Linked DNA regions of Homo sapiens: region 2 is linked to region 1. Evidence: fine-mapped expression QTL. Tissue or cell type: thyroid. Region 1 holds a variant in brackets; the other region holds the start of a gene. All regions are shown on one strand. Distances are between the middles of the regions.

Region 1 (9,199 bases):
TATTGCGTATAGATCACATTTTCTTTCTTTTTTTTTTTTGAGACGGAGTCTTGCTTTGCTGCCTAGGCTGGAGTGCAGTAGCACGATCTCGGCTCACTGCAAGCTTCACCTCCGGGGTTCACGTCATTCTTCTGTCTCAGCTTCCCAAGTAGCTGGGACTACAGGCGCCCGCCACCACGTCCGGCTAATTTTTTTGTGTGTTTTTAGTAGAGATGGGGGTTTCACTGTGTTAGCCAGGATGGTCTTGATCTCCTGACCTTGTGGTCCACCTGCCTCGGTCTCCCAAAGTGCTGGGATTACAGGGGTGAGCCACTGCGCCCGGCCCATATATACCACATTTTCTTTAACCAATCCACCATTGATGGGCAACTAGGTAGATTCCATGGATTCCACAGTTTTGCTATTGTGTGCAGTGTGGCAGTAGACATATGAATGAATGTGTCTTTTTGGTATAATGATTTGCATTCCTTTGGGTATACAGTCATTAATAGGAGTGCTGGGTTGAACGGTGGCTCTGTTTAAAATTCTTTGAGAATTTTCCAAACTGTTTGCCATAGAGAACAAACTAATTTACATTTCCACGAACAGTATATAAGCATTCCCTTTTCTCCACAGCTTTGTCATCATGGTTTTTTTTTCTTTATTTTAAAAAAGAATATGTTGTTGTTTTCCCAGGGTACATGTGCAGGATGTGCAGGTTTGTTACATAGGTAGTAAACGTGAGCCATGGTGGTTTGCTGCACCTGTCAACCCATTACCTGGGTATGAAGCCCTGCCTGCATTAGCTCTTTTCCCTAATGCTCTCACTACTGCCCCACCCTCACCCTGACAGGGCAAACAGACAACCTACAGAATGGGAGGAAATTTTTGCAATCTATTCATCTGACAAAGGTCAAGAATATCCAGAATCTACAAGGAACTTAAGCAAATTTTTACTTTTTAATAATAGCCACTCTGACTGGCGTGAAATGGTATCTCATTGTGGTTTTCATTTGAATTTCTCTGATGATCAGTGACAATGAGCATTTTTTCATATTTGTTGGCTGCTTGTACGTCTTTTGAGAAGTGTCTCTTCATGCCTTTTGGCCACTTTAATGGGATTATTTTTTGCTTTTTAGTTTAAGTTCCTTATAGATTCTGGATATTAGACTTCTTATTGGATGCATAGTTTGTGAATACTCTCTTCCATTCTGTAGGTTGTCTGTTTACTCTATTGATGGCTTCTTTTGCTGTGCCGAAGCATCTTAGTTTAATTAGAAACCACCTGCCAATTTTTGTTTTTGTTGCAATTGCTTTTGGGGACTTAGTCATAAACTCTTTGCCAAGGTCTGGGTCAAGAAGAGTATTTCCTAGGTTTTCTTCTAGAATTTTGAAAGTCTGAATGTAAACATTTGCATTTTTAATGCATCTTGAGTTAGCTTTTGTATATGTGAAAGGTCTACTCTCATTTTCTTTCCCTCTTTCTTTCTTTCTTTTCTTTCCCTCTTTCTTTCTTTCTTTTCTTTCTTTCTTTCTTTCTTTCTTTCTTTCTTTCTTTCTTTCTTTTTGTCCTTCTTTCTTTCTTTCTCTTTCTTTCTCTCTTTCTTTTTTTTTTTTTTTGATGGAGTATTGCTCTGTTGCCCAGGCTGCAGTGCAGTGGCACGATCTTGGCTCACTGCAACCTCTGCCTCCTGGGTTCAACTGATTCTCCTGCATCAGCCTTCCAAGTAGCTGGGATTATAGGCGCCCGCCACCACGCCCGACTAATTTTTGTATTTTTAGTAGAGACGGGGTTGTGCCATGTTGGCCAGGCTGGTTTGAAACTCCTGACCTCAAACGATCTGCCTGCCTTGGCCTCCCAAAGTGCTGGGATTACAGGTGTGAGCCACTGTGCCCAGCCAAGAATGTCATTTTCTAAGAGGTCCAAGAACCTCAAGATATTTTGGGACCTTGAGAAGAGAGGAATTCATACAGGTATTACAAGCACAGCCTAATGGCAAATCTTTGGCGTGGCTTGGCTTCAAGACTTTAGGCTCTTAAAAGTCGAATCCAAAATTTTTTATAAAAGCTCCAGCTAAGCTACCTTAAAAGGGGCCTGTATGGCTGATCACTCTTCTTGCTATACTTTACACAAATAAACAGGCCAAATATAATGAGGCCAAAATTTATTTTGCAAATAAATTGGTCCTGCTATGATTTACTCTTGGTAAGAACAGGGAAAATAGAGAAAAATTTAGATTGCATCTGACCTTTTTTTCTGAATTTTTATATGTGCCTACAATTTGAGCTAAATCCTGAATTATTTTCTGGTTGCAAAAACTCTCTAAAGAAGAACTTGGTTTTCATTGTCTTCGTGACACATTTATCTGGCTCTTTACTAGAACAGTTTTCTTGTTTTTGGTGTTCTAGCTTGTGTGCCTTACAGTTCTACTCTTCAAATTATTGTTATGTGTATCTCATAGTTTTCCTTCTTTTGAGAAAACTGAAGCCATGGTATTCTGAGGACTAGAGATGACTCAACACAGCTGGTGAATCTCCTCATATGCAATCCACTGGGCTTGATCTGCTTCAGATTGCTGATGCACTGCTGCTAAAGCTATACATTTAAAACCCTCACTAAAGGATCAGGGACCATCATGGAAGAGGAGGAAACATGAAATTGTAAGAGCCAGATTCGGGGGGTAGAGTGTGGAGGTCAGAGCAACTCCACCTTGAATAAGAAGGTAAAGCAACCTATCCTGAAAGCTAACCTGCCATGGTGGCTTCTGATTAACCCCTGTTCTGGGAAGACTGACAGTTTGGGTCTGTGTCATTGCCCAAATCTCATGTTAAATTGTAATCCCCAGTGTTCGGAGGTGGGACTTGGTGGTAGGTGATTCGGTCATGGGAGTAGATTTTCTTCTTTGTGGTGTTACAGTGATAGTGAGTGAGTTCTCGTGAGATCTGGTCATTTAAAAGTGTGTGGCCCCTCCCCTCCCTCTCTTGGTCCTCCTACTGCCATGTAAGATACCTGCTCCTGCTTTGCCTTCTACCATAAGTAAAAGCCCCCTGAGGCCTCCCCAGAAGCAGATGCCACCATGCTTCCTGTACAGCCTGCAGAACCATCAGCCAATTAAACCTCTTTTCTGTATAAATTACCAGTCTTGAGTATTTCTTTACAGCAGTGTGAGAACGGACTAATACAAGGATCTCCAAAATTCCAAGTTTATGTATTCTTTCTTGCCAAATAGCAGGTATTTACCATAAATCCTGTCCTTAGGTCAAACAACCTTGATGGCATCGTACTTCAATTGTCTTACACATTCCTTCTGAATGACTCCTCCCCTATGGCATATAAGCCCTGGGTCTTGGGGGATAATGGCAGAGGGGTCCACCATCTTGTCTGGCTGCCACCTGAGACACAGACATGGCTTCTGTTGGTAAGTCTCTATTAAATGTTTCTTTCTAAGAAACTGGATTTGTCAGCTTGTTTCTTTGGACTCTCAGCTTCCTCAGACTTTGGGGTAGGTTGCACAACCCTGCCCACCATGAAACAAATGTTTAATATGATAAATATGGATAGATATAATCCACATAAATAAAAGCTCTTGGAGGGCCCTCAATAATTGTTAAGAGTGTAAATGTGTCCAAAGATGGAAAATGTTTGAGAACTACTGTCCCAGAGATTTTCCTGAGTTCTAGAGTGTGGGAATATAGAACCTGGAGCTTGGCTTCTTCAGCCTAGAATCAGGAGTATGGGGCTGAAGTCTGAAGCTTGGCTTCAGCAGTTTGGGGTTGGCTTCCGGAGCACATATTTGACATGTTGCGACTGTGGTTTGGGGTTTGGTATTTGCTCTGAATCCTAATGTCTGTCCTTGAGGCATCTAGAATCTGAAATCTGTGGTCAGAATTCTATTATCTTGAGTAGGACATCTCCAGTCCTGGTTCTGCCTTCTAGGGCTGGAGTCTGTAGTCAGTGACCCGGTCTGGCATTTCAACTTCATATACAGTGGGCTATCTTTTGGTCCATGTTTCAACCAAACAACCGAATAAACCATTAGAACCTTTCCCCACTTCCCTAGCTGCAATGTTAAACCTAGGATTTCTGTTTAATAGGTTCATATGAATAATTTCAGCCTGATCCAACTTTACATTCCTTCTACCGTTATTCTACACCCACCTTAAAAATGCATTCCCAATATATTCCCTGGATTCTACCTATATATGGTAATCCTGGCTTTGCCAGTTTCTAGTGCATTAACATACCTGATTTACATTCTTTTACTTTAAAGTGGAAATAAGAGTCCCTCTGCAGAGTTCAGGAGTTCTCAAGATGGCCCTTACTTCTGACATCAATTGAGATTTCAAGGGAGTCACCAAGATCATCCTCAGGTTCAGTGATTGCTGGTAGCCCTCATATAACTCAATGAAAGCTGTTATGCTCATGGCTATGGTTTATTACAGCAAAAGAATAGAGATGAAAATCTAGCAAGGGAAGAGTTGCATGGGGCAAAGACAAGGAGAGCTCCAAGTGCAGAGATTCCTGTTGTTTTCTCCCAGTGGTGTCATGGAAAGCAGTATCTTCTCCATACAATGATGTGTGATAATATTCAGTGTATTGCCAATCAGGGAACTCAACTGAGCCTTGATTATATTGGAGCTTGGTTGCACAGACATGTCGACCACCTTCATGGCTGAACTTTAGTACTTAGCCCCTCCAGACGTCTACAGCTGATAGGCTGTAACCCAACATTGTCACCATAAATCACATTGTTAGACTATCCAGTGTGGCCCAAGCTCCCGTGTAAACACAGGCACTCTAAACAGGCAGGATATTTCAAAAGCTTAGAGATGACCTCTCAGGAGCTGAATGCAAAGACCTGGCCTCTTTGGGCAAGGAGAATCCTTTACTGCACACTCTCCTTCACAGGGTTATTGTGAGGATCAAATGTGGTCATGTGTGTGAGACACCAGCACATGTCTGGCTGTGGAGAGTGACTTCTATGTGTGCTAACATTGCTGAGTGCTAAGAAAGTATTAGGCATGGCTTTCAGCACTCACAGATGCTCATCTAATCCTCACAACATGGCTACAGGGTGGGCACTACTAGCCTCATTTGACAGAGGAAAGGACTGTGGATAAGAAGGGGGTGACCAATAGGTCAGAGTCATTCTGGATGCAAGGGGCTCCAGAGGACCATGATTAGACATTGTCTGCAGAGAAATTATGGCTGGATGTCTCTGCCCCGGAAAGGGGGATGCACTTTCCTTGACCCCCTATCTCAGATCTTGACTTTGAGGTTATCTCAGACTTCCTCTATGATACCAGGAGCCCATCATAATCTCTCTGTGCCCTCTCCCCTTCCTCAGTCTTACTGCCCACTCTTCCCAGCTCCATCTCCAGCTGGCCAGGTGTAGCCACAGTACCTAACTCTTTGCAGAGAACTATAAATGTGTATCCTACAGGGGAGAAAAAAAAAAGAACTCTGAAAGAGCTGACATTTTACCGACTTGCAAACACATAAGCTAACCTGCCAGTTTTGTGCTGGTAGAACTCATGAGACTCCTGGGTCAGAGGCAAAAGATTTTATTACCCACAGCTAAGGAGGCAGCATGAACTTTGTGTTCACATTTGTTCACTTTGCCCCCCAATTCATATGGGATGATCAGAGCAGTTCAGGTGGATGGACACAGGGGTTTGTGGCAAAGGTGAGCAACCTAGGCTTAGAAATCCTCAATCTTATAAGAAGGTACCAGCAAACTTGTCCAGTCTTTGTATCTGACGGAGATATTATCTTTATAATTGGGTTGAAAGCAGACCTACTCTGGAGGAACATATTGTATTTATTGTCCTGAACAGTAAACAAATCTGCTGTAAAATAGACGTTAACTTTATTATCTAAGGCAGTAAGCAAACCTAGATCTGAAGGCGATACCATCTTGCAAGGCTATCTGCTGTACAAATATGCTTGAAAAGATGGTCCAGAAAAGAAAACGGTATTATTGCCTTTGCTCAGAAGACACACAGAAACATAAGAGAACCATGGAAAATTGTCTCCCAACACTGTTCACCCAGAGCCTTCCACTCTTGTCTGCAGGACAGTCTTAACATCCCATCATTAGTGTGTCTACCACATCTGGCTTCACTGTGCCTAACCAAGATTTCTAGGTCCAGTTCCCCACCATGTTTGGCAGTGCCCCACTGCCAACCCCAGAATAAGGGAGTGCTCAGAATTTCGAGGGGACATGGGTGGGGATCAGAACTTCTGGGCTTGAGTGCAGAGGGGGCCCATACTCCTTGGTTCCGAAGGAGGAAGAGGCTGGAGGTGAATGTCCTTGGAGAGGAGGAATGTGGGTTCTGAACTCTTAAATCCCCAAGGGAGGAGACTGGTAAGGTCCCAGCTTCCGAGGTACTGACGTGGGAATGGCCTGAGAGGTCTAAGAATCCCGTATCCTCGGGAAGAAGGGGCTGAAATTGTGAGGGGTTGAGTTGCAGGGGTTTGTTAGCTTGAGACTCCTTGGTGGGTCCCTGGGAAGCAAGGACTGGAACCATTGGCTCCAGGGTTTGGTGTGAAGGTAATGGAATCTCCTGATTCTCAAAGGGTCAGAGGACTGAGAGTTGCCCATGCTTTGATCTTTCCATCTACTCCTTACTCCACTTGAGGGTAATCACCTACTCTTCTAGTTCCACAAGAGTGCGCCTGCGCGAGTATAATCTGCACATGTGCCATGTCCCGAGGCCTGGGGCATCATCCACTCATCATTCAGCATCTGCACTATGCGGGCGAGGCCGGCGCCATGACGTCATGTAGCTGCGACTATCCCTGCAGCGCGCCTCTCCCGTCACGTCCCAACC[A/C]TGGAGCTGTGGACGTGCGTCCCCTGGTGGATGTGGCCTGCGTGGTGCCAGGCCGGGGCCTGGTGTCCGATAAAGATCCTAGAACCACAGGAAACCAGGACTGAAAGGTGCTAGAGAATGGCCATATGTCGCTGTCCATGAAATCTCAAGGACTTCTGGGTGGAGGGCACAGGAGCCTGAACTTACGGGTTTGCCCCACTCCACTGTCCTCCCAAGTGAGTCTCCCAGATACGAGGCACTGTGCCAGCATCAGCTTCATCTGTACCACATCTTGTAACAGGGACTACCCAGGGCCCTGATGAACACCATGGTGTGTGCAGGAAGAGCGGGTGAAGGCACGGACTCCTGTGTGGTCAGAGCCCAGAGGGGGCCATGACGGGTGGGGAGGAGGCTGTGGACTGGCTCGAGAAGTGGGATGTGGTTGTGTTTGATCTCCTTTGGCCAGATAAAGTGCTGGATATAGCATTGAAAACGGAGTATGAAGACCAGTTAGAATGGAGGGTCAGGTTGGAGTTGAGTTACAGATGGGGTAAAATTCTGCTTCGGATGAGTTTGGGGATTGGCAATTTAAAGGTGGTTTGGGATGGCATGGCTTTGGGATGGAAATAGGTTTGTTTTTATGTTGGCTGGGAAGGGTGTGGGGATTGAATTGGGGATGAAGTAGGTTTAGTTTTGGAGATAGAATACATGGAGCTGGCTATTGCATGCGAGGATGTGCATTAGTTTGGTTTGATCTTTAAATGAAGGAGGCTATTAGGGTTGTCTTGAATTAGATTAAGTTGTGTTGGGTTGATGGGTTGGGCTTGTGGGTGATGTGGTTGGATTGGGCTGTGTTAAATTGGTTTGGGTCAGGTTTTGGTTGAGGTTATCATGGGGATGAGGATATGCTTGGGACACTGGATTCAGGTGGTTCTCATTCAAGCTGAGGCAAATTTCCTTTCAGACGGTCATTCCAGGGAACGAGTGGTTGTGTGGGGGAAATCAGGCCACTGGCTGTGAATATCCCTCTATCCTGGTCTTGAATTGTGATTATCTATGTCCACTTCTGTCTCCTTCACTGTACTTGGAATTGATCTGGTCATTCAGCTGGAAATGGGGGAAGATTTTGTCAAATTCTTGAGACACAGCTGGGTCTGGATCAGCGTAAGCTGCTCTGGTTTTATTGAACAGATGAAATCACATTTTTTTTTTCAAAATCAAAGAAATCTTATAGAGTTAACAGTGGACTCTTATAATAAGAGTTAACACCAGGACTCTTATTCTTGATTCTTTTCTGAGACACCAAAATGAGATTTCTCAATGCCACCCTAATTCTTTTTTTTTTTTTTTTTTTTTTTGAGACACAGTCTGGGTCTTTTGCTCTGTCACTCAGGCTGGAGCGCAGTGGTGTGATCATAGCTCACTGAACCCTTGACCTCCTGGACTTAAGGGATCCTCCTGCTTCAGCCTCCTGAGTAGATGGGGCTACAGGTGCTTGCCACCACACCTGGCTAATTAAATTTTTTTTTTTTTTTTGTAGAGAAAGGGTCTCACTTTGTTGCCCTGGCTGATCTTGAACTTCTGACTTCAAGTGATTCTTCAGCCTTGGACTCCCAAAGCACTGGGATTGCTGGCATGAGCCACTCACCGTGCCTGGCTTGCAGCTTAATCTTGGAGTGTATAAACCTGGCTCCTGATAGCTAGACATTTCAGTGAGAAGGAGGCATTGGATTTTGCATGAGGACAATTCTGACCTAGGAGGGCAGGTCAACAGGAATCCCCGCTGTACCTGTACGTTGTACAGGCATGGAGAATGAGGAGTGAGGAGCCACCGGAACCCCATATTGTTTAGTGGACATTGGATTTTGAAATAATAGGGAACTTGGTCTGGGAGAGTCATATTTCTGGATTGGACAATATGTGGTATCACAAGGTTTTATGATGAGGGAGAAATGTATGTGGGGAACCATTTTCTGAGTGTGGAAGTGCAAGAATCAGAGAGTACTGAATGCCAACGCTTCTATTTCAGGAACATGGTAAGTTGGAGGTCCAGCTTCTGGGCTCAGACGGGTATAGGGACCAGGAAGTCTCACAATCCGATCATTCTGATATTTCAGGGCATATTAGGTTTGGGGTGCAAAGGAAGTACTTGGGACTTAGGCACATGAGACTTTGTATTGAAAATCAATGATTGGGGCTGGCCGTGGTGGCTCACGCCTGTAATCTCATCACTTTGGGAGACCGAAGTGGGAGGATGGCTTGAGCCCAGGAGTTGGAGACCAGCCTAGGCAACATAGCCAGACCCTCTCTCTACAAAAAAATTAAAAATTAGCTGGATGTGGTGGTGCATGCTTGTGGTCTCAGCTATCCTGGAGGCTGAGACAGGAGAATCGGTTGAGTCTGGGAG
Region 2 (9,909 bases), 43 kb after region 1:
GCTGGACTCCTGGGTCTGAGGGAGGAGGGGCTGGGGGGTCTGGACTCCTGGGTCTGAGGGAGGAGGGGCTGGGGATCTGTACCCTTGGTTTGAGGGAGGAGGGGCTGGGGGCCTGGACTCCTGGGCCTGAGGGAGGAGGGGCTGGGAACAGATATTCCTGAATTCCTTCCGCAGGATGTATTTGGGGGTCAATTTCATGGGTTCCCAGTCCCCAGAGTTAACTGGCCTGGACGGTTTTCTCTATCCACTCAGTGAATTTGCAGAGGTTGGTGTAGACACCTGGCACGCCAACTTGGCCACACGGGGCTTTTCCGAAAGACACAAGGCCCTGCAAGTACCCGTTGCAGATCAGGGGCCCCCCAGAGTCACCCTGTTGTGAAGAGAGGGAGAGTCAGAATTCAAAACACAGAGAGGTGGAAATGGATGTGGGCTCAGAAAGGAACTAAATGAGACTGAGAAACAAAGACAGAACCATCATCAATAACAACATAGCCCAGCAACATATCTGTTGGAAGTCCCATTCCAGATCCCTGACTTCATCTAATCCTGCTTCCCGATGTCCTATGTCCTGAATGCTGGCTGCTTCTCTTGGGCTTGTGGTCTGTCTGTTTCTGTTTGTCTGTCTCTCCTTTGTCTCCTTTGTGGCTTGTTTATCTGTCTCAGTGTCTCTGCATCTCTTTGTAAAGTCTTTTTTTTTTTTTTTTTTTTGAGACAGAGTCTTACTCTGTTGCCCCAGCTGGAGTATAGTGGTGTGATCTCAACTCACTTCAACCTCTGCCTCCCATATTCAAGCAATTCTTCTGCCTCAGCCTCCCAAGTAGCTGGGATTACAGGCGCCTGCCACCATATCCAGCTAACTTTTGTATTTTTAGTACAGACAGGATTTCACCATTTTGGCCAGGCTGGTCTTGAACTCCTTACCTCAAGTGATCTGCCTGCCTCGCCTCCCAAAGTGCTGGGATTACAGGCATGAGCCACCCTGCCCAGCCTCTTTGTAGAGTCTTGATTTTTCCTGTTTCTCTTCGTGTTTCACCTCTATGAATCTGTGTCACTGTTTCCCTCTGGGTACACAGTTGACCCTTGAACAACCCTGGTTTGAACTGCACAAGTCCACTTATACTTGGATTTTTTCAATAAACACATTAGAAAAATTTTAGGAGAGTTGCAACAATTTAAAAAAATTCACAGACGAACTGTGTAGCTTAGAAATATCAAAAAATTCCAACAAAGGTATATCATGAATGCATAAAACGTATGCATAAATCGACTATTTATGTTATTGGTAAGGCTCCCCGTCAACAGTAGGCTATTTCTAGTCAGGTTTTTGGGGAGTCAAAAGTTATAAGAGGATTTTCTGTTGGGTGGAGGTCACCGCCCTCAGGCCCCATGCTGTTGGAAGGTCAACTGCATTTCTATGTGTGTGTGTTTCTGCCTCCCCATGTCTGTTTCTGTTTCTCTCTTCCTTTGCTTCTCTTTATTCCTGTGTTTATTTCTCTGTTTCTCTCAGTTTCTCTCTCTAGTTGTCACTGTCTCCCTGTGTGTCTCTCCATCTCTGCATCTCGCCATGCGGCCCTGTGTGTCTCTGTCTCCCCCTTCTCCACCCTTCCCTGAGTCGCCTGCCCTCCCCTTTCCCCTCTCTCACGTTGCAGGAGTCCTTCTGGTCTTGCCCTCCGCCGGCGCAGAACATGCTGGGGTGGTACAGCGGGTCATAGAGCTTACTGCAGACCTCCTCAGACACCACCGACACGTTCACGCACTGCAGCACGGTAGGCATTCTGCCTGGGACGCAGAGCTCTGGGTCAGCCCCCGCGACTGGGCAGAGGACCTCCTTGAAGAGGGCAGACACACACCCGTGAGCTCACCGTTCGCCAGCAGACCCCAGCCAGAAACGAGGCAAGAGTTCCCCGCGGTAGGGCACTGCGAAGCAATGCTGATGCTCCGGATGGTGTCAGACTCGGACACGGATTCGTCCAACTTGATGAGCATGAGGTCGTTAGCGAGCAAGGGTCTGTTGTACTCTGGGTGCCGTACGGAGAGGCTGGCCTCCACCATCTGGCTCCCTGGCTCTTGGTCGGCCTCAAGACTGTGCAGGCCCAGCCCGATGGTGTAGGAGCTGTGGGCCACGGAGGGCAGGTCAGTTTTGTGGCAACTACATCCTTACCTCCATTCTCATCTTCAACCCCATTCCCATCCCCATCTCCTAACCCCAACCCCACCCTCTTCGCTAAACACCCTAAGAGCTACTTAACCATGGTCTCAAATCCTCATTCACAAAAATTCAGGGACAAGAACTTGCCTTAGTTCACTAGAGACTCAGCACTGGGCTGAGATTTCAAGTCAGGACTCTCTGAGTCCTTCCGAAGCAAGATTCCCGCCTCCCAGCCCTTCCCTCTGGGGCTCCCCGGATCCAGGCTCATTCCGTCCTCCTCCCAGAGCCTTCACCGCTGTTTCCCCCTGAGCACCCCAAGATGAGCCTGATATTAGGCCCCGCCCCCGGACCCAGGCCCTGCCCACTCCCCCTACCTCTGCACTCACTTCTGGAAACAGTGTGCGGCTGACAGCACCCACTGCGGATGCACCAGGACGCCCGAGCAGAACAATTCGTTTTCCATGACCAGTGCCGCCTGCCAGGGCTGCGAGTGCGGGCTGCAGTCCTCGCCGTTTATGATTTGGCTGCAGCTACCAGAGACGAGCGATCCTGAGGGCGGAGTCAGGGATGGGATCGGGACCAGGAGGCGGGCCCAGGGTTCCTGGGGGTGGGCTTACCGAGCAGGGGCGTGGTCAGAGGTTCAGGAGCAGTCAGGGCTCCTCGGGGCGGAGTCAGGGCTGGGAACGGGCTCAGGAGGCGGGCCCAGGGCTCTTGGGGGAGGGGTTACCGAGCAGGGGCGTGGTCAGGGCTTCAGGAGCAGTCAGGACTCTTGGGGGGCCGAGTCAGGGCTGGGGGCGGGCCCAGGGGGCGGACCCAGGGCTCCTGGGGGTGGGGTTATGGTGCAGGGGTCATGATCGGAGCTTCAGGGGCTGGTCCAGGATATAGGCCTAGGGCTCCCAGGGGCGGTGATCACGGTGCAGGAGCCTGGTCAGGGATTCAGGGTAGTCAGGGCTCCTGGGAGGAGAGTCAGGGCATGGGGGTGGGCTGAGAAGGCGGGATCAGTGCTCCTAGGGTTGGGGTTACAGCGCAGGGGCGCCATCAAGGCTTCAAGAGCTGGGTTATGGCTAGAGGCAGTCTCAGAAGGTGGGACCAGGGCTTCTGGGGCGGAGTCAGGGCTCTGGGGTGAGCTCTGGAGGTGAGACTGGTGCCATCGCGGTGCAAAGCCACGGTCAGGAGGGGTTCAACAGAGGAGTCTAGGCTCATAGCAGTAGGATCGGGTCCTTCGGGGTGAATTAAAGCTCAGGGGGTGGAGTTGTTGCTGGGAGCAAGGATCGGGTCACTTGTCTGCGCAGACTGATGCTCAAAGAGTCGGTCCTGCGCCGAGTCACTCCTATCCTCTCCCAGCCTTGCCCACAGTCACACCAAGCCACAAGCCCATGCACACCAAAACACCGTTTTATAGTCCTGTGAGGTGAGTTCCTTGGGGATGGGAGAGGGGGATCTCAGGACTGAAGACCCAGGAAGCAGGCACAGATTCCCAGCAATGGATCACGCCCCAGGAAGCACAATCTCCTGCACCCTCGGCTTCCCCTGTCCCCATATCATCATTACACTGTTGTCACTCCACCAGATATTCAGAGGCACAAACTGTCAGAGTCTCACAGGTACAACCACACACCCAGGCACACTGCCACACACAAATTTACCACGATACAAGGAGTTGCAGGGGCACAGCCATGGGGGACGGATAACACGGTACCGTCTCACAGGCAGCTTTGCAGTCACAAGCAAGAGGACACTGAGTCACACCTGAACATTAACAAACACTGTGCCCCCAAGCACGGACAGACACACACACGCATACTCAGATACCTGCGACACCAAGGATGAGGTACCCCAGGAACCAGCCCCAGGGATTTCCTGCTGTGGCCATCACGTCAGCACCTGGGGATGAGGACTGAGACTTAGCCGTGTCTGGGGATCTTCAGCCCAAGTCTCTCCATCCCTCTCTTTGTCCCTCCCTTTCTTCCCTCTGGGACGTTATTAGGTAGGCAAGAGCCTAGACCATCTACCCCCTCTCCCATCCATGGACCCAGAACCTAGAGAGACAGATTTAGAGACTGAGAGAGAAAAAGAGAGAGAGAGATGGGAAAAGAGAGAGAGAGAGAGAACTAGGTAGAAAGGAAAGTTTAGAGAAAGCATCTAGCCATCTGTGAATGGGGAGAGATGGTGTCTAGCCACCCACAAACAAGCATGGAGGGAAGACACACAGAGAATCAGAGCCGGAGAGACAGAGTGCTTGAGAGATATCCTCAGAGACAGTCTGAGAGTTAGACATGGAGATATAGATTCAGAGAGACAGAGAGACCCCTAACTAGAGACAGTGACTCCTAACTAGAGACAGTGAGAGATCTGTCTAGAGAGATGTGGAGACAGAAGGCACAGAGGCTGAGAATCCAGCGACATGGAGCTGTAGGGAGAGTTGGATCATGAACACTGCAGGCTTTTAGTGGGGGACCACCAGGCCTCTTACCCGGCCACCTCTGGGCTCCTGGATTCCACTGCTGGGCTGAGCTCCAGCCTGCTGCCTCCCGCAGGGGCCTCCTTGGGGCTTATAAGCATCCTCAGCCTGGGCTGGCCTGCCCCCAGGGGATGTGTTCCAGGGGTCAGGTGCTGCAAACTTCCAGCTCAACTCTCTCAGGCTGCCTCAACTCTGACCAGGCAGTGGTTGGGGGCCCAGAAGGGGCTGGCAGCAGGGTCTAGGGACCCAGGGAGGAGACCCCTGCCCAGATCCTAGACTCCACTCTCCTTTTTCTTTCTCTCTCTCTCTCTCATTCTTTCTCTTTTCATGTTCTTATTCTCTCTCATGAGATACCTCTCTCTTGCCTGTATCTCTCATTTTCTCTTTCTCTTCTTCTTTCTTTCTCTCATTCTCTCTCTCATTATTTTTCTCGTGTTTTCTTTCATTTCCTCTCATTCTCTCCTGTTCTCTCTCATGTTCTTTCTCTTTTTAAATTAAATCTCTCTCTCTCTCTCCCCTCCTCCTTCATCCCTCTCTTTCTGTGCTTCTCCAGCAAATTTCCCCAGGTTCGTATCCAGCCTACATCACGAACTATTTTTGGAACCTTGGGCAAGTGACTGCACCCCTGTGAGCCTGTTTTTCCAACTGTAAAACTGGAGTGACCATTATGCCCCATTTCCCAAGTGGATTCAAAGAGGTAATTCAGGGAAAGGCACACAGTGCCAGGCACATTGTAGGCTCTCGGTGAGCGGGAGAACTAAAAAGTCTTCGCTCAGTGAAAAGCAGCTGAGTGCCTACCACACTCCGAGCTCTGCGGCAGGTGCTGGGGCCACAGGAGGAACCAGCAAAGTCCTCGTCACTGGGGATCGCGTCCTACCCGGGGGCACAGACCATAAAGGAAAACTGCAGGGACCAGCATATAAGGTGGTGGTCGGGGAGACTCAGAGAAGGGGAACATTTAAGCTGAGATCCCAGGGAAGAGGAGGAGGAGGGTCGCCGCAGCAGGGGCGGTTGCGGGGTGCAGGGGAGAACTTGGCTCCAGCCAGAGGAGGGCAGGGCGGGTAGGAGGGCAGGGCGGGTAGGAGCGCAGACCGGGAACCGGGCGGGCCTGCAGGAGTTTACGTACCAGGATTAAGGAGCTTGGGTTTTACTTAAGTGCAATGGATTTTAAGCACGAGGATGGAGTGACATAATCTTATTTACTTTTTAAAAACTTCCAGCTTGGAGAGTGATGGTGGGGGCGGGGCGGGGGGCAGTGGCAACAGCCCAGGTGGGAGGTGACGGGGTCAAGGGAGAAGAGAGGTGAATGGACACGGGGTCCCCTCTGCATGTGGAGCCAAGTTACTGCCCGATGGATGGAAAGTGGGGGGCCAGGAGCAGAGGGGCCAAGGATGGCGTGGAGGCTTGGTCTGCTGGCTTGCGCTCTACGGATCTTGTGGAGACGCATAGGTGCGGGAAGGGGGGTGGGGGGTGAGAGGGTGCCGTAGACCGCGGAGGGTGCACGGAGGGGCAGGCCGAGGTCAGGACTGCCGAGAAACAGCGGGGACTCATCAGGGGAGAGGTGGTGTTTACAGCCACGAGGCCGGGTGAGATCATCCAAGGAGTGGGTGGGTGTAGACCGCGGAGCCGGCGCGGGTGAGGGATAGTGCCCGCAGGTGACCGCGACGAGGCAGGAATGTCTCTGTGTCTCTCTGTCTCTCCTGGGTCTCTAACACTCTTTCCTTCTCCTTCCTTACTTCTTTCCCCCACAGCCCACCCCGTGTGTCTGTCTCTCTTTCTCTCTGGCTCTCTTTTCCTCTGCCTCTCTGGTCCCATCTCTGTCTCTCTCCCCCTTGTCTCTGTTTCTCTCACCTGCCAGACTGGAAGCATCCCAAGTGAGACCCTCCCCCAACTCTGTCCTGGGCCCGTGCGCCCCCAGATAACTCTGGGCAGGACGGGACATAGGCTGGGACCACAGAACAGGAAGCCCTGGCAGGTTTCTGTCTCTGTCTCTCTTTTCCCTGTCCCTGTCCCTTTCTCTCTCTGATCCCTTCTCTCTCGCTCTCCCTCTGACCTCTGTCTGTGACCCTCTGATCTCTGTCTGTCTCTGTCTGCCCCTGTGTGTCTCTCTTTCCTCCTGTCTCTGTCTCACCTTGCCTTCTCTCTCTGTCTGTGTCTCTGCACCTGTGTCTGTCCATCTTTCTCTGTGTCTCTCTCCTCCCATCTCTGTCTCTGTCTGTGGCTCCGCACCTGTCTCTGTCCATCTTTCTCTGTGTCTCTCTCCTCCCATCTCTGTCTCTGTCTCTCTGTCTGTCTCCGCACCTGTCTGTCCATCTTTCTCTGTGTCTCTCTCCTCCCATCTCTGTCTCTGTCTCTCTGTCTGTCTCTGCACCTGTGTCTGTCCATCTTTCTCTGTGTCTCTCTCCTCCCATCTCTGTCTCTGTCTCTCTGTCTGTGTCTCCGCACCTGTGTGTCTGTCCATCTTTCTCTGTGTCTCTCTCTCCTCCCATCTCTGTCTCTGTCTCTCTGTCTGTGTCTCCGCACCTGTGTCTCTGTCCATCTTTCTCTGTGTCTCTCTCTCCTCCCATCTCTGTCTCTGTCTCTCTGTCTGTGGCTTCGCACCTGTCTCTGTCCATCTTTCTCTGTGTCTCTCTCTCCTCCCATCTCTGTCTCTGTCTCTCTGTCTGTGTCTCCGCACCTGTGTGTCTGTCCATCTTTCTCTGTCTCTCTCTCCTCCCATCTCTGTCTCTGTCTCTCTGTCTGTCTCCGCACCTGTCTGTCCATCTTTCTCTGTGTCTCTCTCCTCCCATCTCTGTCTCTGTCTCTCTGTCTGTCTCTGCACCTGTGTCTGTCCATCTTTCTCTGTGTCTCTCTCCTCCCATCTCTGTCTCTGTCTCTCTGTCTGTGTCTCCGCACCTGTGTGTCTGTCCATCTTTCTCTGTGTCTCTCTCCTCCCATCTCTGTCTCTGTCTCTCTGTCTGTGTCTCCGCACCTGTGTCTCTGTCCATCTTTCTCTGTGTCTCTCTCTCTCCTCCCATCTCTGTCTCTGTCTCTCTGTCTGTGGCTTCGCACATGTCTCTGTCCATCTTTCTCTGTGTCTCTCTCTCCTCCCATCTCTGTCTCTGTCTCTCTGTCTGTGTCTCCGCACCTGTGTGTCTGTCCATCTTTCTCTGTGTCTCTCTCCTCCCATCTCTGTCTCTGTCTCTCTGTCTGTGTCTCCGCACCTGTCTCTGTCCATCTTTCTCTGTGTCTCTCTCCTCCCATCTCTGTCTCTGTCTCTCTGTCTGTGGCTCTGCACCTTTGTCTCTGTCTATCTTTCTCTGTCTCCACTTTCCTCCTGTCTTCTCTCATGTTGCTCTGTCTTTGTTTTCCATGCGCTTCCAACACTTCTCCCTTCGCTCTCTTCATTGTGTCTCAACTCAAGTGTTACTTCTTCAGAGCCCTTCCCTGAGCCCTCCCCTAGTCTGATTCAGGGTCTTCACTCCCCTATTTGTTTTTTCATCTTATAGCATCCTACATGCTCCTTTAGAGAATTTGGTACAATGTATACACGTATTATTATGTGTTTCTTTTTCTTTTTTTTTCTTTTTTGTTTGTTTGTTTGTTTCTTTGAGATGGAGTCTCACTGTGTTACCCAGGCTGGAGTAGAGTGGTGCGATCTCTGCTCACTGCAACCTCCGCCCCCCGGGTTCAAGCGATTCTCCTGCCTCAGCCTCCCCAGTAACTGGGATTATAGGTGCCTGCCACCAATTCTGGCTAATTTTTGTATTTTTAGTAGAGATGGGGTTTCACCATGTTGGCTAGGCTGGTCTCAAACTCCTGACTTCAGGTGATCCGCCCACCTTGGCCTCCCAAAGTGCTGGGATTACAGGCGAGAGCCACCGCGCCCGTCTTGTGTGTTTATTTTTCTAGTAGCTGTTTCTTTCATTAGTGTGGGAGCCCCTTGGGGACAGGGCTGGTGTCTGTTATGTTCACTGATAAAAACTATTCACTGCAGATGTGTTGAGTGGATGGATAAAGGGAGATACAAAAATAGAGAGAGACAGACAGGAGAGGGAGAGATGAAGGCTGACGGAGAGAGAAAATAACAACAGACAACAATGGTAGCTTACTATTAATTAACCTTTAGAATATGTTAAATTAATTGTAAGGAGGTCAAGAACTTACCTTATGTCTGGCCCTCTTCTAAGTATTTTAAATGCAATAACAAATGTATTCCTCAAAAAAATCTAAGAAGTAGATGCTGCTATGAACTTTGTTTGACAGATGGAGAAACTGAGGCACAGAGAGGGTAAGTAGTTTACCAAGGTCACAGAAAGACTGAGGCCAAAAGAGAAGAACAGACAGAAGTGGGTAGATGGAGAGTAGGAGAGAGCTGGGAACACACTGAGAGATGTGGCCAAAAAGATAGGAAGACGCTGAAAGAGAGACACGTCTCAGGAATTAGGAATAATCATCACTTTAAAAATAATAAAATATCAGGTTGGGCGCGGTGGCTCACGCCTGCAATCCCAGCACTTTGGGAGGCTGAGGCGGGTGGATCATCTGAGGTCAGGAGTTCGAGACCAGCCTGGCCAACATGGCAAAACCCCATCTCTACTAAAAATACAAAAATTACCTGGGCGTGGTGGTGGGCCCCTGTAATCCCAGCAACTTGGGAGGCTGAGGCAGGAGAATTACTTGAACCCGGGAGGCAGAGGTTGCAGTGAGTCGAGATCGCGCCATTGCACTCCAGCCTAGGTAACAAGAGTGAAACTCTGTCTCAGAAAACAAACAAGTAATAATAATAATGATAAAATATCTAACATTTATCTATCACCTCTCTTCTAGTTGTCATGGTAACAATTTTATACAAGTTAACTAGTTTTAATTTTCATAACTCCCTGAGGTACTCATCATTATTCCCAATGTGATGAAAGAGGAAATGAACGCACAGAGAGGGCAAGCTACTTATTGAAGATCACACAGCAAAGCAGCCATGCACATGGGCTGCCTGACCCCAGAGCCCATATCTTGAGCTGTTATGCCACCTCTCTCTATAAGTCAGGAAACAGAAGCTGAAGCCAAAGGACAGGTGGGCCTTCCTGTAGATACACAGGTCATGGGGGCCCACCCTGGCCCACTATCCATCATCTGAGTCATCTGAGTTCACCCCCACCTGCGGATGAGATGCAGCCTCAGCCAGAGAAGCCAGGGAGTATTGCTGGGGAGGGGAGGGAATGCGGCCACAGACGGGGCCACCCGCCCACCGAGAGAGCCCGCTCTTACTGTATAACTGGAAGAACAAGCCCCTTCTACCTCCCATCCCCCTGGGGGCTGG

What was found. PIP is the estimated chance that this variant, and not a neighbour inherited with it, causes the effect. A credible set is the group of variants that fine-mapping cannot tell apart.
Region 2: it holds the start of KLK4, and the variant in region 1 is the best candidate, but not a certain one, in a credible set for the expression of KLK4 in thyroid (GTEx, PIP 0.73).

What each region holds. Positions count from the first base shown.
Region 1 is chr19:50,863,830-50,873,028 of GRCh38, forward strand. No RefSeq gene overlaps it. Among named protein-coding and RNA genes, the nearest start is that of KLK2, 5.0 kb to the right of the region's middle. RefSeq lists promoters at 2,591-9,199, 9,010-9,199, enhancers at 4,456-6,222, 4,797-5,964, 5,172-6,055, 5,437-6,023, 5,784-5,806 and 1 more and a cis regulatory region at 5,784-5,806. The variant A/C (reference allele first, on the strand shown) is at 6,814.
Region 2 is chr19:50,906,717-50,916,625 of GRCh38, forward strand. It overlaps KLK4 (kallikrein related peptidase 4), which reads right to left and starts at 4,679. Exons shown (of 6, transcript NM_004917.5): 1 at 4,623-4,679; 2 at 3,962-4,033; 3 at 2,536-2,698; 4 at 1,863-2,113; 5 at 1,643-1,779; 6 at 1-370. The coding sequence starts at 4,022. The coding sequence ends at 218.